Linked DNA regions of Homo sapiens: all the other regions are linked to region 4. Evidence: fine-mapped expression QTL. A gene starts in region 4. Each other region holds a variant in brackets. All regions are shown on one strand. Distances are from middle to middle. Region 1 has its middle 43 kb from the start of ZNF536. Region 2 has its middle 160 kb from the start of ZNF536. Region 3 overlaps ZNF536 (zinc finger protein 536). Region 4 holds the start of ZNF536 (zinc finger protein 536).

The links. PIP is the estimated chance that this variant, and not a neighbour inherited with it, causes the effect. A credible set is the group of variants that fine-mapping cannot tell apart.
Region 1: its variant is the best candidate, but not a certain one, in a credible set for the expression of ZNF536 in thyroid (GTEx, PIP 0.87).
Region 2: its variant is the best candidate, but not a certain one, in a credible set for the expression of ZNF536 in fibroblasts (GTEx, PIP 0.77).
Region 3: its variant is the best candidate, but not a certain one, in a credible set for the expression of ZNF536 in lung (TOPMed, PIP 0.85).

What each region holds. Positions count from the first base shown.
Region 1 is chr19:30,326,893-30,332,064 of GRCh38, forward strand. It overlaps a transcript of ZNF536 not described here. Among named protein-coding and RNA genes, the nearest start is that of ZNF536, 43 kb to the right of the region's middle. The variant T/G (reference allele first, on the strand shown) is at 2,560.
Region 2 is chr19:30,212,029-30,217,200 of GRCh38, forward strand. No RefSeq gene overlaps it. Among named protein-coding and RNA genes, the nearest start is that of ZNF536, 160 kb to the right of the region's middle. The variant C/G (reference allele first, on the strand shown) is at 2,812.
Region 3 is chr19:30,400,800-30,405,971 of GRCh38, forward strand. All of the region lies in intron 1 of ZNF536 (zinc finger protein 536), which reads left to right. Among named protein-coding and RNA genes, the nearest start is that of ZNF536, 31 kb to the left of the region's middle. The variant A/G (reference allele first, on the strand shown) is at 3,012.
Region 4 is chr19:30,369,492-30,374,663 of GRCh38, forward strand. ZNF536 (zinc finger protein 536) reads left to right here and starts at 2,893. Exons shown (of 5, transcript NM_014717.3): 1 at 2,893-3,065. RefSeq lists an enhancer at 3,937-4,438.

The DNA of each region.
Region 1 (5,172 bases), 43 kb before region 4:
AGCCCAGGAGTTTGAGACCAGTCTGGGCAACATAGGGAGACACCATCTCTACAAAAAATTAAAAAGTAACCAGGTATAATGGCACACACCTATAGTCCCAGCTACTCAGGCGCGGTCTTATTGATTTGGGTGTTGTTGCTTCAGCCCAGCAATAACTGGAGGCTGCAGTGAGCCTTGATTGCACCACTGCACTCCAGTCTGGGCAACAGAGAAAAACCCTGCCTCTAAAAATAAATAAGTTAATTCATTAATAAAAATAAAAAGCCTTTTTTCCCCCTTATGCAATTTAATCTCCTGTTTGCTTACAGCCTTTTGTTAAAGGACACAGCATTGTTGAAATTAATCCAGGAGGAGTGCATATTTCCTCGGGCTTGGGGTTCAGACCTCGGGCTCAGGGCCCCAGAATTTACACCAGCTTTGAATGACTGAGGTCTGACTGAACCCTGCCCCATCCAGAGAGGTCCATCCCATCCCGGACTTCCTCTGAGAATCCAGGCTCTTCTCTGTGAACAGTTATTTTATGAGGAAAGTGGGGTGTTTTCTAGGCCTGTGTTTGATTTTCACTTATAATTATCTCCACATAAGACTTCAATTTTGGATTTTGAATTGGAGACACATGAACCCAGCTTTGCATGTTGAAAGATCAGTGACAAAAGTCACATGACATTTGCATGCCGTAATTGTTCCTGCGAACCCTTCAGCAGGCTTTGTTTGGAAGTTCTGGAAACCTGCATGAAGCAGCCATGCACCCTTCATTTGGGAGGTGTCTTTCATGCATTTAGCTTGGGTTTGGGTTTCTGTGTTCACATCTCAGTCCTTCCAAGTGAAGGAAGCTCTTTTTCAGTTCTTCTCAGATCACACTCTTGGATCTCCTAAGACCCTGGTGTTCATCCCTCTCACCTCTGCGGCCTGAGCTGTGGAATTGTTATCCTTTGGGCAATGTCTTTGTCCTCTGATGAGTGGAGTTAGGAACGATGATGACTTTTAAGGTTGGAGAACGGGGTTATATTACCCAGTCAGTAGAATGAGCAGGCGGGATCAGCCTGGGCTCCTGGAGCCACCATTACTAGTGGGGACAGGTCAGACTCTGTGCCCGTTTCCTCTTCTCTCAGATAGGGTGGAACCTGCTTTGTAAGGTGGGTGTGGATGAAATGAAATAATTCACATCAAATGCTTGGCAGAGGGCAGAAACCCTCGATTCACAACTCTGATGATGATCATGACTCTCATATTGGTTTATCAATGAACATGTGAACATGAAGGTGCCTTGTGTGTGTTCAGCTCTGCAGAACTCCCCAGGGGAGGTGGGGAGGCATTGCCCAGCTCCAGTGACCATGATGGCTGAAGAAGTGAGCAGAGAAAGACTTGGGCCTCCAGGAGCTCCTTGAGAAATAAACCGAGACTTCGGTGGAGGCCACACTTGGCCACAGCTACCCAAGGGCAACTTTGATTCTCATTCGAGCTCATGTCCCTATCACAGCAAAAGCTCTGCAGCCCCTGACAAGGCAGAAGAGGAACTCATGGGCCTCTGTGTAACCTGCTCTTGGGGCTCTCTGCTGCCCTTGATCTTCACTCAGAACTCCATGGTTCTCCATCATGGCCAGAGGGGAAGACTTGGCTCTTAATAATTGCGTATTCAATAAATGGTGATGCATTGTTCTGGCTGTCCACGTAGCCCTAACTAATCACTCAAGTTCCATTGGAATCATTTTGTAATGCAAATAGTTATTTGTACCACTTGTGTGTTTCAGAAATGAAGGTCTGATGTGATGATTCCACCCTATAGGAGGGAGAGATTTGCTGGACCCAATATCCACATGGCTCTCTCTGGAAAGATCGTGGCATGTTCATAGATGTGAATTGGGGTTCCTTTTGGATTTTCCTGCTGATCTTGAAGCTGGCGTTGCCAGGGGCTTGGTGTACTTGGACCTAGTTTGGTGGCTTTTAGACATTAGAGACCATCAAGAGGTACTTAGAAATATTGGCTGCTTTCATTTTGTTCTCGATTTCTCTCTCTCACTTTTCTACTCCTCCCTTTCCCCCTGCAACAATAGAATTTTGCGGCATCATCAGAGTGAGAGATGGGAATTAGCACTGTAGAGAGGGATACCCTCATGCAAGGGAGCTCTGTTGGGTTTTGTTCAAACGGATCTTCTTTGAGGGGTTGCTTTGCAAATGTCGGTGTGTCAAGAAGGCCAACAGCTATCTAAGAGAGGCCTCTTAGCCCTCAAGAGTCCCTCTCGGGCTCTCAGTAGACAAACACCTGTCCTAAGCCACCTCTGAGAACATGGGCCACACAACAGCAAGTGAACAGAACAGAGCCTTTATTGAGACAGGTCCGAAAGGACTGGAGCAATCAGCTTACAGGGAACATTTTTGCTTCGTAGGAATGCGGTCCTGCTTGCTGAAAACATATCCTTTGTACAGAGAACACACATAATCCTAGGTCAACTTTGCCCTTTGAAGAAAAATATGCTCAGCTGGAATTTTGGAGGTGGGGGGCTGGGGAATGGGAGGTGGGGAGGAATCTATTCTACAGAATATCTGTTCTACAGAATA[T/G]CTGCTTAGAGCTAGAACCTTCAAAGGAGTTAAGTTTTTGGAGTTCTGTTCTATAAAGTGTGTGGGATCAACCAATACAATGCAACAGCCATGAAAGTGATGATGAAATTTTATTTAAGAGAACATCTAAATTATGTTTAAAGTTCTTGTTGGAACTATCTTTTGCAAAGATAGTTCCAGACCTTGGAAAGCCCAGGCGTGATACAGACAAAAGTTTATCAGGCCCCTCTCCCTCTCTGCACCCAGCTGTACTATTTGGTGGTGCTATGTGTTCTTAAGGTCATGTCAATATTTCCATTAAAACACACATTTTTAAAATGGAGATTTATTACTCTGACAGGATAGTTTGCTCTGGGGCATAAGTTAACTTACTGGGTCTACACTTGGTGGGGGGATACTTTCTCTACCAAATTTCTGAGGAAAAATCAGAATTGATTTGGGAATTATTGTACTGTGCTACTTGATTTTCAAAAAATATCCATTGAGCAGAATGGACTAAAATATTGCAAAGTAATATGGTTTAGGTGATAATTTATAATCTTATGATTTAAATGAGATGCTGTATTTGAAAGCACTTATTTTCATGCCTGGTATACAGTAGGCATTCAATAAATACTACTTTGGTCCTATGATTACTACTATGATTACTCCCGTCACCACCACCACCACTACTAATTTCTTTGAGTTGGGTTAATATGGAGTAATAGATCACATACTTTATTCATCAGAAAGCTGGGAGGCGCCAGGTGCCCACATGTTAAATATTAACTGTGCTAAATTCGATCATGTAGAAGTTTGTGGCCAATAGTATTATATTAAAATAAATTTGGTACTGTAAGCAACTTGGACAAAAGTTGTGGAACCGAGGCAGAAACTCACTCTTGAGTGGTCAGTTTCTTGCACACTGGGTTATGTGTCACTGGCATTTTAGGGCATTTTCACTTTACATCTGCCTTTGTTTGGTGAGAAACTTTGCAGTTTTCTGGGCTGCAGGGGGCATTGGAGGGACTGAGAGGACACTCGACTTTGGAGCTGGGGATGGGGAGGCCTCGTTACAAGCCTTGCTTTGCTACCAGTGGATTTAGAAAAGGTTACATTGCCACTCTGGGCCTCAGGCTCCCATTTCTAGGAGGTAAAGTAGTCTATGGCTGTCTTACTCTGACGTTTGGGCTCTCCCAGGCCATATCTGTGAAGCAACAGCTGGTGGTCTGGCTTCACTGACCCTCCTGCTCTCAAGACATGGCCATTGTAGACATGTACTCATTCGGGATCAGAAAGGAATGGAAGCAGGTGGCCAGGGAACTTCGAGGCATTGAAGTGGAGTCCATTTTTCGGTCCTGAGGGCTCCTAGCCTGAGAAAGCTTGACCTGTGGGTCAGTGAAGCCCTTGCTTGAGCCAGCAGAGAGTTAGGACCTCTGATTCTCAAAACATAACTTCACTGCTCCGCTCACACAATTGCAGTCAAGGAATTGAGGACTAGAGGTTTCAGTCCCTACTGCACTTCCAGCAATGGACTGGGAAAATCAGGCTCAAGTCATTGATACTGGTAAATAAAAGGGCCTTATTTCACCTGTAATCCCAGCAATTTGGGAGGTCAAGGCAGGAGGATCGCTTGAGGCCAGGAGTTCAAGGTCAGTCTGGGCAACATAGCAAAACCTCATCTCTACAAAAAATTTAAAAAATTTAGCCAGGCATGGTGGCATACACCTGGGGTCTCAGCTGCTTGGGAGGCTGAGGCAGGAGGATTGCTTGAGCCCAGGAGTTTGAGACTGCAGTGAGCTATGATCACACCACTGCACTCCACACTCCAGCCTGGGGAACAGAGTAAGACCCTGTATCTTAAAAAAAAAAAAAAAAAAAAAAAAAAAAAGAATATTATTTGTCTTTATGACAGATGACCATTTCTTACTAGATAATTACTGAATACTATAAATCTTAGATCTCTTCTGTCTCTGCAGTGGTCATGCTGATTCCCCATCAGATTTGTTTGCCAAGTGACTTGAGGAGATCTCTTGTAAGGAGGTCACCAATGTCCTTGATTCTGGTGTCACCGTCTCCTGAGGTGTGTGTTCACTCCGAGTTTCTGCAGGTCTGTTGGCCAGTGACATTGACCAAGAATGTCAAGGTCATGCATCCAACAGGCTGGACTTTGCTTCCTTGACCTTCTCAGCTCAGTAACTTTTCTTCCACTTGACCTTAGCCATCCATTTCAGATCCACACCCAGGCTTGACAGTGACCAACACCTGAGCTCCTCTGAAATCTGGTCTTCACCCATCCTATGATGAGTCCATCACTGCCTTTCCCTCCAAATCACTGTTTGTGATGCCTCCACTGTCAATCATTGGTGTGCTCACCCAGGGACCCTTCAGCTTCCTCCCTGTCCCCTGCAGGGGACCTTGTCTTCCCGCTGCCCTTCACCCAGTGGGGAGATCATGGTCCATCATTTTCATCACTTCCTTGCACCCATTATCAGCTCTTAGCTCTGTGGCATGTTTTCTTTTTGTCTCATGCACCTGATGAATCTTCAGTCCCGGGTGAACTCAGATATCTCCCTTTTCCATGCCAGTTCCTTGCACCCCAGCTCTCCAGGAGAAAACCATGCAGCTGAGCTG
Region 2 (5,172 bases), 160 kb before region 4:
TTCAGTGAGCTATGATGTTGCCACCACACTCCAGCCTAAGTAACAGAGCAAGACTCTGTCTCTGAAAACAACAACAACAAAGTTTGTTAATATGCCCATTGTATAAAATTTAGAAGACTCTGAAATCTATCAAGAACAAAAGTTAAATCACGATTAATCCCACCATCCAGAAACACCATTAATATGGGGGTGAATTTCTTCCCATACCTTTGTTTTTGTATTTTTTTGCATGTAAAATTTACATGCATAAATAAGTATGCATGATGCAGTTAGAGAAAAGAGGCTGCAAGGGAACTCACCCACGTGTTAATAGTGATTGTCCTTTGGTTAATTCACAGGGAATGTCGTGGGTCACATGCACGTCTTCAGAACGAGCATATTTATAGATGCATGCATAAAACAGGCATTGTGTTGTCAATAAAGTTTTGTACCCTGCTTTTTTTTGCTTTCCCCATCTGCTAGGTCTAATTAACCAAATAATTTTGATGACTGTAGGTTTTCCCAAATTCTAAAAATCGTCGTCTTTCACTGGACACTGGTGTTTTGTGGAATGTGGTATGCATTCGTTCACTCACTCACTCAAGAGCCACACGCTGAGTCCCTGTGAGGTGGCAGCTCTGTGCTCACTGCTGAGGACACCGAGAGGAAAAGTCCCGTCCCTGCCCGTGGAGAGCTCCTGCTTTAACGCTAATGGCCAGGCTGAGGCCGTGCATAGCAGACTTTAGCACGAGGACTCATGGAGTGTTTCTTGTCCCCACGGGGTGCAGCCCAGAGCTGGATGTGCACCACACTGGCGTGCAGCCTTCACTCTCCCTGACCAATGCAAATCCACCCTTCTCTCTTTCACAACATCCATGTCTTAGATGATACTTCGCACCCAAACCCTCCACGTGCAGGCAGCCTGCCCTCCCCCTTTCTCCCCCAGGAAAGCCCTCTCTTGGCTGGTGACTACATTCACAAGGTCAAGGACTCGAGTTGTTCATTTCGTCTTTAAACTCCTGGATTGTGACTTATTTCCGGTCTCCCAGGTGTGAGATTGATTCTTTTTTTTTTTTTTTTTTGAGACGGAGTCTCGCTCTGTGGCCCAGGCTGGAGTGCAGTGGCGCGATCTCCGCTCACTGCAAGCTCCGCCTCCCGGGTTCACACCATTCTCCTGCCTCAGCCTCCCGAGTAGCTGGGACTACAGGCGCCCGCCACCACGCCCGGCTAATTTTTTGTATTTTTAGTAGAGACGGGGTTTCACCATGTTAGCCAGGATGGTCTCGATCTCCTGACCTCGTGATCCGCCCACCTCAGCCTCCCAAAGTGCTGGGATTACAGGCGTGAGCCACCGCGCCCGGCCGAGATTGATTCTTAAAGGTAATCTTTTAAATGTTTTCCTCTGGGACTCGGCTTCCAGAATCTCAGTTCTGATGTGTTGCTTTTCGTAATGTAACAGGACACATTCTTAGACGGGGTGGGAGAGCCAGCGACAGAATTCGTCTGGCAAACGTTGTCTTATCCTGGGTTTATCCAGGTGTGCAGCTCTGTAGCCACTGTGTGCTGCTGAGGCGACACTTCCTCCCGGGGCACAGTGGGAAATGTGTTCCTCCTGTCCTCTATGGTAGATGCTTCTCACTAAGCCTGGGACTTCCAAGTGGCAGAGACATATCTTCTATCGTTAGAAAACCCTCACTTGCTTATGTACTCAGCCTAAAGCCCAGGTAGGTTAGAACAGAAACATCTGAGGGTATCGTGCAAGCCCTCAGCTCAGAACATTGTATCTGGGCCGGGCGTGGTGGCTCATGCCTGTAATCCCAGCACTTTGGGAGGCCAAGGCAGGAGGATCACTTGAGGTCGGGAGTTCGAGACCAGCCTGGCAAACATGGTGAAACCCTGTCTGTACTAAAAATACAAAAATTAGCTAGGCGTGGTGGTGGGTGCCTATAATCCCAGCTACTTGGGAGGCTGAGGCAGGAGAATCGCTTGAACCCGGGAGGCGGAGGTTGCAGTGAGCCGAGATTGTGCCACTGCACTCCAGCCTGGGCGATAGAGTGAGACTCAGTCTCAAAAAACAAACCAACAAACAAAAAACAAACCAACAAACAAAAAACAAACCAAAAAACCCAAAATCAAAACAACAACAAGAAAACATTGCATCTAGCTTCCTGGGGTGACTGGGTGGGTTTCATTCACAGTCCGGGCATCACAGCCATGGCAGCAGATGGTTGCTTGTAAAGGCAGTGTTGTGGGGGTACATTCAGGGGGGATGTAGCCATAACCTAATTTTGGGGGTTAACTTCTTTTGTTTTTTGAGACAGAGTCTTGCTCTGTTGCCCAGGCTGAAGTGCAGTGGCATGATCTCGGCTCACTGCAATCTCTGACTCCTGCTTCAAGCTATTCTCGTGCCTCAGCCTCCCAAGTAGCTAGGATTACAGTTATGTGCCACCATGCCTTGCTAATTTTTGTATTTTTAGTAGACATGGATTTTCACCATGTTGGCCAGACTGGTCCCTAACTCCTGACCTCAAGTGATCTGCCTGCCTCGGCCTCCTAATGTTGGGTTAACTTCTAACTACTCTAGTGATTCAGCTGATTGCTGCTGCTAGAAAGCTGGACTTTTTCTTACATTAGCAACTGTGTTTCCACCAGTCAGGATCAGGAAGGCCAACTTCCCTGCTGTACTTGTGAAAAGATGAATAAGTAATTCATAAAATATCTGTCCATAGCCCAATAGGCATTCCACAGAGATGACAGAAGACAGGCAAAGGGGCAAGAGGGAGCCCAGATGCAATGCAGTCCCCAAATCAAGTTCCCTTTTGTAAAGTGCGT[C/G]ACCTGCAAATGCCTATTGTGAAAGAGAAAGCGCATCACCCATGCTGTGGGTTCCTGACTCAGGCTGATGGGGAAAGCCAAAGCCATTTGTGACAAAAGCTAGGTGACAGGGGTAAGCCACTGGTTTGGGAGTTTGCAGTGAGGCCATTCTGAACCTGCAAAACCAGATCTGACAGTCTAAACGATTTACTAACAGGAAGTGCTCCGGATGCTGTGATGGACTTCTGTATTTACGTTGAATGAGTTGAATGAATGTCATAGGCAGAAAGAACTGCTCACTAGGGGGCCGGGACAGAGGCTGATGGAGATTCCCGTTAGCCAGGTGTGGAGCGGAGCCTCCAGGGCTTGCCAGGTATGCTGGAAACAGAACACCACACAAACATCTCTACAGCCCTGAAGTGCAAAGCTAAATAACATGGGACATTATGAAAACGACTGTCATTCTTATTTAATTTAGAAAATCCACATAAAACATGTACACATCATGAATAAGAATAGTAAAGGCCTATTATGTACCAGGTGCCATGCTAAGGGCTAATCCACTGAGTTCTCTAAACACGCTCTTTTTTCTTATGTGGAGGTTAAGGCACAGAGAGGTTATGTAACTTGCCTAAGGTCACACAGCTCTAAAATTTTGGAGCTGGGATTTGAACCCAGGTGGTCTGGCCTCAGAACCTGTGCTCTGCTGCTTTATGGTATTCTCCTCCCCTTCTCTTTTAGAGCAATAGAAAAATCACCACCATTGGCAAAAGTAACTCGAGGAGTTAGCAAGGGGTGAGGGGTCTGGGGAGATCTAGAAGCAGAGCTTCTGAGTGGGCAGCAGGCAGGGGAGTTGGAGCCCTAGAATGACTATATCAGGAATATTGGCTGGACACATACCTCCCTTGGATACACAGCCCATCTGGAGCTAAAGCAAAGAGATACATTGTTTTATTTGAAGCCAGCAAGGTTCAGTGGGCACTGAGAGACATCCCTGGGGTTCCCTAGAGCTGAAGGGTGAGCCGGGGACAACAAGAACCTGTTGAAAATGGCACCACCATCAGAATTAAAAGTCCAACTAATTTGGAGCAATAGTGACTGCCTAAGGTTTATCATCCTCTTATGAGTCTGTAAGGTAAGCCATAAAGCCTCCTGTGCATAAATGGGCAAAAGGCTGGAGGAGACACAGGAAGAGAAACAAATTGGGAAGAACAAGTTGGGGCAGCCTTTTTGGAAAGAAAGTTGGCAGCATCTAGGAGGGGCCCCAAAACCTTCATATGCACCGATCCAACTTCACCTCTGTCAGTGGATTCTAAGAAAACAAGCAGAGACGCAAACAAAGCTTTAACCATGAAAATGCTCTCTCCAATACTTCTAAGAGAACAACAACAACAACAACAACAAAATAGAAACAATTTAGATGCTCCAAAATAAGAGGTTGTTTAAATAAATTATGTTGCATCCATTTGATGGAACATTATGTAGCTATAAAATCATGTTTTCAAAGAATATTTAATGACATGGGGAGATACCTTGTGCTACAAGGTTAGAGAACAAAAGCAGGACACAAAATTGTTTATAAAAATGATTCAAAGTTTGCAAAAAATTGATATGCACAGAAAAATGCTCGGAAGGAAAGATACAAAAGGCTATCAGGGTGAGATTAAGAAAGATATAATCATCTTTGTACATTCCTGTGTTTTCTAATTATTCTTCAATGTGCATCAAGGACTACTTTATATCAGAGAAAAGAACCATTAATTTTAAAGTGTTGCAACTAATTTCTAGTGGTGGCAACACATTTTAAGCAATGCTGTTCATATGTGCATTCATTCATTCATTCATTCATTCATTCATTCATTCATTCAGTGGTCAGTGTAGGTAAAGTGCTTAAAACAGTGCCTAGCCGGTTGCAGTGAACCGAGACTGCACATTGCACTCCAGCCTGGGAGACAGAGTGACGCTCCGTCTCAAAAAATAAAAAAACAGAACAAACAAACAAAAAAATCCCACAAAAAAACAACAAACAAAAATAAGTGCCTGGCACATAGTATGAATTATTTAAGTGTTAGATATGATTCATTAATTTCTTTTTTTTCTTTTTTTAGAGGCAGATATCTTACTGCGTCATCCAGGCTGTAGAGCAGTGGTGAGATCACAGCTCACTGCAGCCTTGAACTCGTGGGCTCAAGCAATCCTCCTACCTCAGCCTCCTGAGAAGCTGGGACTACAGGCGAGTGCCACCAGACCCAGATAATTATTATTATTTTTATTTTTTTTAGAGACAGGGTCAAGCTATGATGCCCAGACTGGTCTCAAATTCCTGGCCTCAAGAGATCCTCCTGCCTCAGTATTAGTTTCTTGATTAGTTCCATCAACATT
Region 3 (5,172 bases), 31 kb after region 4:
GTCTGTAGCTTGTCTTTTTATCTTCTTAGCAGGGTTTTCTGCAGAGCAAAAAATTTAATTTTGACAAAATCCAATTTATTAATTTTTCCTTTTGTGAATTTTACTTCCGGTATCATATTTAAGAACCATTTGCCCAGGACCTAGGTTCCTATGATTTTTTTCCTATATTATCTTCTAAAAGTTTCATAGTTTTATGCTTTATATTTACATTTGTAATCCATGTTTTGTGTAAGATATGAGATTTAGGTCAAGGTTCTCTTTTTGTTGTTGTTGTTGTTTGTTTATAGATATCCAGTTGTTCTAGCTCCATTTGCTGCAAAAAACTCTCCTTCCTTCATGGAATTGCTTTTGCATCCTTGTCAAAAATCAATTGGCCTTACCTGTGTGGGGGGCTACTTCTGAGTTGTCCATTCTGTTCCATTGATCTATCTATTTTTTTTCTTTTACGAGATGGAGTCTCACTCTGTCACCTAGGTTGGAGCTCACTGTAGCCTGGAATTCCTGGGCTCCAGCTATCCTCCTGCTTCAGTCTGGTCTACATATCTTGATATTTGAGAATAAGAAAGAAGGACTTCAAGATCCGGGTTAGACTCCCCATGTCCCAGTACCTCTGGCCTCCACCAAGAATGGATGTGAGCACTGGAACTGGGCTCACCACCCCAGTGGGGTTTGCTCTGCACAGGAGCACGTGTGAAGGACTTTACCCACTGCTTTCTCTACCACATTCCCCAGACACTACTGTTTTGGGTCTCTTTTCATTTCTTTTCCTTGCTTACACATGTTCTCAGATTAAAGTGGGATTTTCTGAAACAGATTTTTTCTATAATGGGGTAAAAACCGTAAGTAAACAGAATTATCATAACCATTTAAATAGTAATAAAATATGTTTTTCTATTTCTATTCAAAGAGGGGGAAAGGTAACTGGAGAAGATGAAAGGAAAAGCTAGATTTGTGGGTGGTAGGTGTGTTTTCTTCTTCTTCAACAACAGGTACAGAGTTTTAGTAAAGGACTTCAAGGGAAAAGGAAAAAAATAGCATATACTGTTATGGGGTTATTTTTATCTTTCATTTTTGTGACAACTTATTTGTACTTAAGAGAATCTTTCCAAAGAGTTAGAAGCATCATTAAATAAAGACTGTGAAATGTGCAATATGGCTTATTTATTTAAATGTTAATTGGTCCAACGAACACTTCTAATTAGCTCTATATTTGCTTAGCAAAAAGTTTTACAAATTCCAATTGTGAAAAGCAGCTATTTTGAGCTGGTAAGCATGTTGCAGCCTCAGCTATGATTTTTCTATAGTTCTCAGCCCTTGAAGGCACAATTTAATTTTTCATGTATGCATACTAGCAACGGTAAACACTTGCGAGTGTAAAGAACCTTCTTTAATTAGCTGCACAACAATTAAAGGATTCACAAACTAAATTGAACCCTGTCTCGGTGCTTACTAGCTGAATTCTACCACCTGTCACAACAGCACTTTGTTCAATCTGTTATGCAAAATCATTATAGCAATATAGTGGAGGGGAAAAAAAAAGAGAAAACAGCAATTATTTCTTACTTTTCTCTTGAATGGGTTATTTTGGGTTATACTGATGTCAGGTTCATTGAAGCTAACCTTTTGAAATCTGTAACAGCATAATACTTCTAAGGCAGTCTCAGAATGGCTGGAAGAATATTCCATTTTACGCTTTTAGGAGGAAGCAGCATTCATTTCTTTCCTCCTAAAAGTGCTGGAGACTCTGATCATTTGAAACAACCTGTTCTACCTCTCCCAGCCACCTTCCATTTGCCTTTTTTCACCGGGAACCCTGTACGGCTCGACAGGCTTCTGTGTTTTAAAAGCTTGCAAACCGCGGCCGACGTGGGTTTAAAGATGCAATTCTCAAACTGCCGCCTCCAGAGCATCTCGAGTCATATTACTTCATAAGCCCAGTGACTTACTGTAAAAACATGTGTGTTGCTTGCTTTTTAAACATTTTTTAAAATTAAAAAATATATATATATATATATATATATATAATTTTCAAAAATTTGATTTAAACTAAACTGCTCTCCTGTTTAGACTGGGTCGGAGGGGAATGTTACCCCCACCCCACCCTGGCCATTTGCAGAGACAAAGGCTTTATTGTGAGGCCCAAACCCAAAGCCTGACATGACAGACTTCTCCCTGGAGTCAAGGAATAAATGTTTACATTTGGTGTTGCCGTGCCCTGGCCCCCTGGTAGGAATGCCTGCAACTCTGGGCTTTCACATACAGAAGGGATGGGGAGGGATGCTTTGCGGAGGAGAACACCGCTGCTGACGAGCTGCACTTTGAGATGCTGCCTGGCATTGCTTAAAATGGCATCAATAACATATTGTTAGTCCCAGCCTCCAAAGCATATGTGATCTGGCCATTTCAGACGTCGGAGTGACTGTAGACAAACCGCTGAGCTCAGTCAGAGGGTCTGCATTCTCCCACATTACAATATTTTTTATAAGTTGTTCTTTACATCATTTCAGGAAAATGCACAACGCAGACAAGGCAGGCCTTTGAAAATCTAAACTCTTTCCCTGAAAAAATGCTGAAAGGAGGAAAGTGAGAGCCAAAGGTCAAAGGCTGCGCAAGAATGTGTTTCTCTATTTTTCCTATTTCTTAAGCAGAGGAAACTGTCATCGTTGTGGCATTTGGGTAAGAAGGACTATCTCCAATCAGGTCCAGGAGGGAGAATTTGAAGTCTACAGGGGCTTCTCTCTTCTTTCTGCTGAAATCCAACTCTTTGGCTGGTCCAGGGCTAGTGCATGGAAACTAAAGTGAGCTGCTATCCGCTTTATTGAAGTTGGTGAAATGCATACCTCCTGCAAACTTGCAGCTCTAGAAAGAAGACCCACTTGCTGTCTTCCACAGCCTCCCTGTCTGCTGCTGCACTCGGCTGCAGTTTTATTGCCAGAGTCTCCAAGTGCAAGGTCCAGCTGCTCTTTGTCCCTGGGCATGCTGTCCCCCTCGTTCTTCCTGTGCTCTTGACA[A/G]CGGTGTCTGCACCAGGCTTTTGATGGGAGGCTGCTGTTGCCTTCAGGGATGGGATGGTCACATAGTAGGCTCTCAGTGAACATCTGGTGATGACCGTAAATGTAATCTCCACTTGGCCGAAGAACTCATGGGAATTGAAGGGTGGATTCAGGCAATTTAAGCCCTTCAGCATTCCCCTCTACATTTTTTTCTTTCCTTTCCTTTCCTCTTTTTTTTTTTTTTTTTTTTCTGCTGTTCATTTAGAATCTCCTCATCACGGTGCACTATTTGTTCCATCCCACGTTTCTTATTGCTAGTCTTGCAAGGGAAGATGGTAGGTAGAAGAACTGTAGCGTAAGGCCAGCGTTGCCCACGCAGGGCCTGCCTACCTTGTGCTCAGACCTGGGTTGGGCACAAAGGGGGCCATCCTGCCTTCAAGAGGCTTCTAGTCTGGGCGCAGAGCCCAGACTCCCCAAGGAAATGTGGAGACAGCCTTGGTGTAGATTCTGTATTTGGGGCAGGCCAGAGGGGGACACTGTTTTCTGGCACCCCAGCATCCCTGGAACTCCAGCATCCTCAACTGCAGGCCACTTGAGGTAGTGATGGCTTAGCAGTGAGGCGCATGGCATGTGGAGACAGGCAGTCTGGGGTTCAGTCCCAGCAATCTAGTGATCAGATGTGAAACTTTAGGCAAGTTATTTAACCTCTCTGTGCCTCAGTTTCCTCAACCATAAAACGAATATGATAGTAGTAAAACTCACTGATAGAGTTTGAGAATTATGTGAAGGCACTTAGAACAGGACTGAGTGCCCAGGAAGTACCACGTTAGTTACCATTGCTGTTTGTTTCTAGAAAACTCTCCAACCATGATTTTCCTCTTCTCTTATACTACAACCACAGTCATCAACACAGAAGAAGACTTCTGTGACCAAATGTCCGGAGGCGGGGGGGCTCCTCAACACACCCAGCAGTGGACACCAGCTGGGTGTCCCCAATTCAATTCTGCCACCATCTACCCAGAGATCCCACAGGTTGCGAGCTCAGTCCCCAAGACGGTCCTGCCCCAGGCACCAGTTGCAAGTCCAGGCCTCACGAACTTCTGACCAACAGGCTTCACGTTGGGGTTCCCATGACCCCCTCTTTGGGTCCTATTAATTTGCCGGAGCAGCTCATGGAAACATTTACTTATGTTTACCAGTTTATTATCAACAATATTACAAAGGATGTGGGTGAAGAGAGGCGTAGGGGAATGTATGGGGCATGGTGGGGAGCTTCCACGCCTTCCCTGGGCACCACTGTCCGGGAACCTCAAGGCATTCAGCTATCCCGAAGCTCCCAGAACCCAGTCCTCTTGGGTTTTTAGGGAAGCTTCATGATGTCATACATATCCTTCAGAATATAGGGTGAGACCCTCTTTGGGGAGGGTCTTAAGACCCCAAGTCAGAAAGATGGGGGAAGATTAGAGTCCTGCCTTGGGGCAGGTGAAAGGAGGTCAGAAAAAGATCAGAAATATTCTGTTTCCTGAGGCCTAATACTGCCAACATTACAACAAAAGACTCTGACAGGGACCATGGGAGTTATGAGCCAGGAACTGCAGACAAAACCTATGTATATATAATAACACCGCACTGCTACTTCCTGAACTTGGGGTCTCCCTGTGCCTGAACTCCATAGGTTCTGAGATTCAACAGAACCTTAGGAAACCATCTCCTAGCTCCTGGCTTCAGGCTTGATGGGTCTGATGAGCCATCAGACCAGAGTCTTCCAGGGAAAGCTTCTCCATGGGTACCAAACCATTTAAGACTGCACTTCTCCCTTGCCTCTTGATACTGTTTATGGGCGCAGTGTTGTAGTCTAGAAGGTGGATTTTCAGAACCGGTGTGATCAGTCGCCACACCCGAATCGTTTTCCACCTTTGCATCCTGCCTACTGGAAATTGGATTACTTACTGAAGAATGTGGAGGCCCTTGATGCAGAGGCACTGTTAACATTTTTTTTTTTTTTTGAGATAGAGTCTCACTCTGTATCCCAGGTTGGAGTGCACTGGCACAATCTCCACTCACTGCAACCTCCACCTCCTGGGTTCAAGCGATTCTCCTGCCTCAGCCTCCCGAGTAGCTGGGATTACAGGCACCCGCCAACACACCCAGATAATTTTTGTATTTTTCGTAGAGACGGGAT
Region 4 (5,172 bases):
CCGTCTGCGATTGTGCAGTCTAGATGTTGCTGTCACTGTCCCGGGGTGTGGTTTTTGACTGGCTGTTGCTTTGACCTGGCAAATAAAAATTGTAAAGGAAAAGACAAAATTCTTCCACAAATTGCAAAGGGATGAATTATGACATTATTTTCTCCCTGTACCATAAGATAAGCAGGTTCTCCTCTGAAAATACATGTGTGCATAATTGAATATTGTTAACCTGGGTCTGTTCTGTAATTCTTGAGCAATTTTTTTTTAGAAGGAAACCAACTCAGGAGTTTCTTCAGTGGCTGCAATCAGAATAAAGTGTTTCCACTTTTAGATTAAGAGAAAAAAAAACAGTAATAGGCTGGGCTGTTATTATGGAAAGTTTATTATTATTGGTACATAAGCTAGCTGGGGGTTTAAGCACAGAGCAGTTGGATAATTTAGCTAGCTCCTGGATCCAATTAAAAAAAATATATGTTGTGTCCACAGTGGGGGGATGGCCATCGCTGAGAAAGCACTCTAACGTGGATGGTGACACACCTGTGGCATTCTCTTGGTTATACGCAGTTTGGGATGCAGAATGCTGTAAATCCTCTCATTACTGCCTTAGAGAAGGCAGACACTTCAAACAGTTCTCCATTTATCTGAGATTACCAGTTAAACTCGTTAAAAAGCAACTATGGCTTGTTCACTCAATTGGCTGTTGGGAAGATTTCTGTGTTCTGTAGCAATGGCGACAGCGTGGCTTTGATTAGTGGAGTGCTATACTTTTTAGGGGAGACCTTTTCTAACTTAATTTATGACTCTGGTTGAATGGCGTCTGTGCTGGGGTATTACGTATTTCCCCAACTATTGTACCTGATGTCAATAAAGGTGCATTTAGGGAAATTTGAACTAAAACCCCAGGGTGTTTTTGTTCTTTGGGGAACCAATGCGCCATAAACATTTTGAACTTGAGCCAACAACCTCCCCTGACCATGATTGCAAATTACTGTAGAATGTATGGATTGCTGGCGGAACACTATTTGAGGAAACCTGTATTTTATAGAATGTCACTTTTATGCACAATCCAGGCAAAACAGAGGGGAAAAAAACTAATTTAAACAGCAGACAGTGTTCTCTTGAATGAAGATTATGACAAAGAATGTTATAAAAATCAAGCTCTAAATATGGCTTTTTATTTAATCATTATTACATCAATCATCAATATCAATACTTAACAGCAAGCTGATAATGTAGCCAGTAGGTGAAACAGCTATTAAAAAGTGTAAAAAAATGATTAATCAGGTACGGGGGATATTAATGCCCTCCAATTATTAAATGATAAGTACGTATTTTTGGAAGTGTTTGTTTTTAATAATCAACTGTAATATTAGTTTGCAAAAACGTAATTGCTTCTTAATTTTGCATTTTAGCTTCTTTGTGCTGGGTACAAAGGTAGTATGTTTCTGTAGTTATTGTTTGCAGCACTCCGTGTAAAAAATCACGTTCATTTCAAGAAGCTGTTATGGTATTGATTGTGGTAAAGACTTCCATTAACTGACCAATCTAAATCTCATAAGTGATGTCAGGATAGTTATGCATTTGCTTGGTTCAAGTATTCAGCCATTATGTTAGAATGCAGGCAGTGTCTGAATATGGCTGTTAAATTATTTCTAAATACCGAACCAGAACAGCTTAACAGTTCTGCAGTTTGAGACTGACACAAAAATGACAATCTGCCACCTCTTTGTTTTTTAAATATTAACGCTGTATTGGGATAGTATTTTTGGAGTAAAAACCTGTGGCACGAGAGGATAAGTGACATAAACAAAGGCAGCTGGGCTTCATGAAATAATGGAACAATAAGGCCTTTGCAGCCGCTCTCATCACTCCAGTATGTTAATTAGCATTCTGTTGTGGCCGCAACACTGAAAACATGTAATCTGTATTGGTGTACAGTACAGCTGTGAACACACATTCTTTTTTGTGAGTCCCTGGAGTTAGCCTTGCCATTGGCATATGCGTTTGGGCCAAAAGTCAAGCCATCACCACTAAAATAGCACACCATAGCAGCAAAATGTCATTTGTCTTTTCTTGTTTTTTTTTTTTTGTTTTTTTTTTCTCTCCCCTCAATGCCACATGCTATCCAGTGATGTAATCTAGTATCACTGCATCTGCCTCCCTGCTGTATTTTTGCAGGAGGGTATCTGGATATCTGTAGGGGAAAGGAGGGGGCATTGCCAGCCAGCAGGAGATGGAAAAGGCAGCGGCCCCAAAAGAGTCAAATTAGAAAATAAATTATTTCTTTTTGCATTATATGTTTAAATGCATATATAGAGAATATATATATATATATGCATATATATGTGTGTGTGTATATATATAAAGAGAGAATATATATACATTGAAGAATCTATGCATTTAATATCTGCCACCTTTTTGCATAGATTCTTCCTTAAGTGTCATGAAACTAGAATCCGCTGCTTGTTTTCGTAAGGTAAAAGAAGGGCAGTTAATTTCAGCACCAAGGCTTGGAGGAAATGAGACCTAAGAAAAAAGAATCAGAGTAAAATTTACCCTTATTTATCATTTCTATTTAGAACTGGGTTGACAGTCTTTCATGCATGTACTTAGGATGGGATTGGCTCTTCCCATTTCAGAGCTGACAAAACTGAGGCTGAGGCATGGTCCAAAGATGGGCCCTAATTGCAGGGCCTTTCTGGCCTCTGTACAGAGAGAGTGAAAACAATTGGTCATTTTGAGGGAAAGGGGTTAGCACCAGTGAGCAGAGGCAGTTAGTAGCTGGGAGCAGTGACTCCAGCCTTCAGAGGCAGGACTCAGAAAGGCCTCTCTTGTGTGATTTTGCTGCTCACACGTGGCCTGCTGGGAGCCGCCCCTGGTACTGCCGGGACACGGCCCTGGGATTTTGCTGAGGCCAGCTTTGGAACAGGGGAGGTGAGTCTGGAGAAGAGAGTTTCCACGTTGTCATCATAGGATCTGGACTCAAGTGACCAAAACCTTGCTTGGATTTTTACCTGATGAAGTTTGTCTTGAAAAGTGAAAATGGTTCCATTTCCATTTTCCCTGTTCTCAAGGTAATTCAGCTTTCTTTGTGTGTGAGTGTGTGAGTGTGTGCAAGTGTGTGTGCGTGCAGTCTCCCCAGCATAGAACACCCACACATGCACCCACCCACATGCAGACACGCACATACTCATGCATGGATTCTTGTTCACGAAGTACACACCCTTTTGCAAAATAATTTTTGAATAAAAAATTATAGCCCTTTAAATTTATTATAATTTAGAAAGGGACCATCCGATGGTTAAAACTTTTCCTATAATTCCTACATTAATTCTCTCCATCACCCGCCCCCCCCATCTAATCTGACTGTACCAAAAGATTTGAAAACAAAGCAAAAACACCAACCAACCAAACAAAACAACCCACCTGCTTCTAAAGTAACTTTCAGACTCCCTGGGCAAAGATTCTTGTCTCTTTCTGAAAGATGAGCATGAATTCTGAGCTCCAAATTTTGCTTTTAATCTGTCTCCAACCTAATTGAAAAATTACCATACCACACAAAGAAAACTCCGCATCGGGATCACCATGCTGATCCAATTGGGTTCTGCTTTTTGACGTTAGAGAAATCAAATTGTCTGGCGATTTGGTGACATGCTTGAATGTCCACCTGGGAGAAGACTAGGTTAAAAGTTAATAGCACTTGTGCTTTTCTTCCCCCCGACCTTTTTTTAAACTCCAGTAGAACGGAACTCTTCCCCACTGGCCAGGCCCTCATCCTGAATCCCTTGTCCAGCCTGGAGGTCTTCTGAGAGTTCTCAGTTGGCACCTTTCCCCTGACTTGTCCCTGTGAGGTAAGGCAGGGCTGACACTGAGATTTTAGTTCTGTTGTTCTTTTTTTTTTCCTAGAAATTCACACCCCCCACCCCTTGGTTAATGGCTCTTTAAATATTGAAATGCCTGGAAAAACAAAACAAAATAAAATAAAATGCAGCCTGTCAAAGAAATAAGAACAACAACAACAAAAATGTTGGTATCTTTTAGAATGTGTCTTCCTAGTGGTAAAAGTATATAATTAATAGGAGAATTTTCCTCCAGATGTGGCTATACTATAATAGAGCCTTATAAATGCTACAGAAAGAAAAATTGCTTGGAACGAAGGCGTCCTCAATGAGAGCACACCTGGGTCTGACAAAGATTGCATTTAGGGACTGCTGTGCTATCACAACGCAGAGAAAGACCAAGTCTCTGGGAGCAGCTGGAGAGAAAGCCCCGGCAAATCTGCATGCAAATAGCAGCACATTGTTAACTTAATCAGATGCCGAGGAAAGATGTGCCAGAATTCCAGGATGATCTACACACACGGAGGAGGAGCGGCCTGAGCTGCAGTGGGAGCCGGGGCCAAGGTGGGCCTCAGCAAGGTGCACGCGGCCCGGCCCCAGCCCCAGGGCCGCAGCCCACCCGCCGCCCGCCTGTTTTCCGGGCCTGCAGTCAATTCACCACATAATGCCCGATTCGCTCTTTGCAAAGATAGAAACGATAGAGCGTATTTCAATGGGATGGAAGCTTTATTATTATTATTTTTTAATGGTGATATAGGTATGGGCATTATTTCGCCTGAGTCCGTAACTCCAATTAAATAATATTTCTGCTTAAATATCCGGGTGCATGAAGATAAGAAATATTGCCCTGGAGTGTATAAAGAAAGAGTTTTTTTTTCAATAAGAAAAGTAGTTCTCTATAGGTTGAAGTGCTGGGTATAAATTGCACCTTAAGAAGAAGTGGAAGACACCTGTTATTTATATTTTATATTAATATTAATGGAAATATATATATCTTAAATCTCCATCTTTTAGTCTAGCACCGTAAAAAATATAAAGTAATACTATTTAATCACCCACAGCTTAATAGTGCCTTAGTTGTTTACTGCCATTGCACTAATTGCTCTGTACTAATGTGTTTTTCTGTGATATCCAGTAGTGCTAAGAGAACAGAGATCCATAACCAATTAAATATAGTGTTTTTTTTTAATGTTAAAAATATATCTGGTGAGGCTAGAAAAGGAATAGAAACCGCCCTGAAGAAAGGCGCCTTGGCACCGCCTCGGTGCCCACCAGAAGGTGCCCGGATTGCCTCTTTTGCGCAAAGACAAAGGGGGTAATTTTTTGGCAAGAAAACAAACCC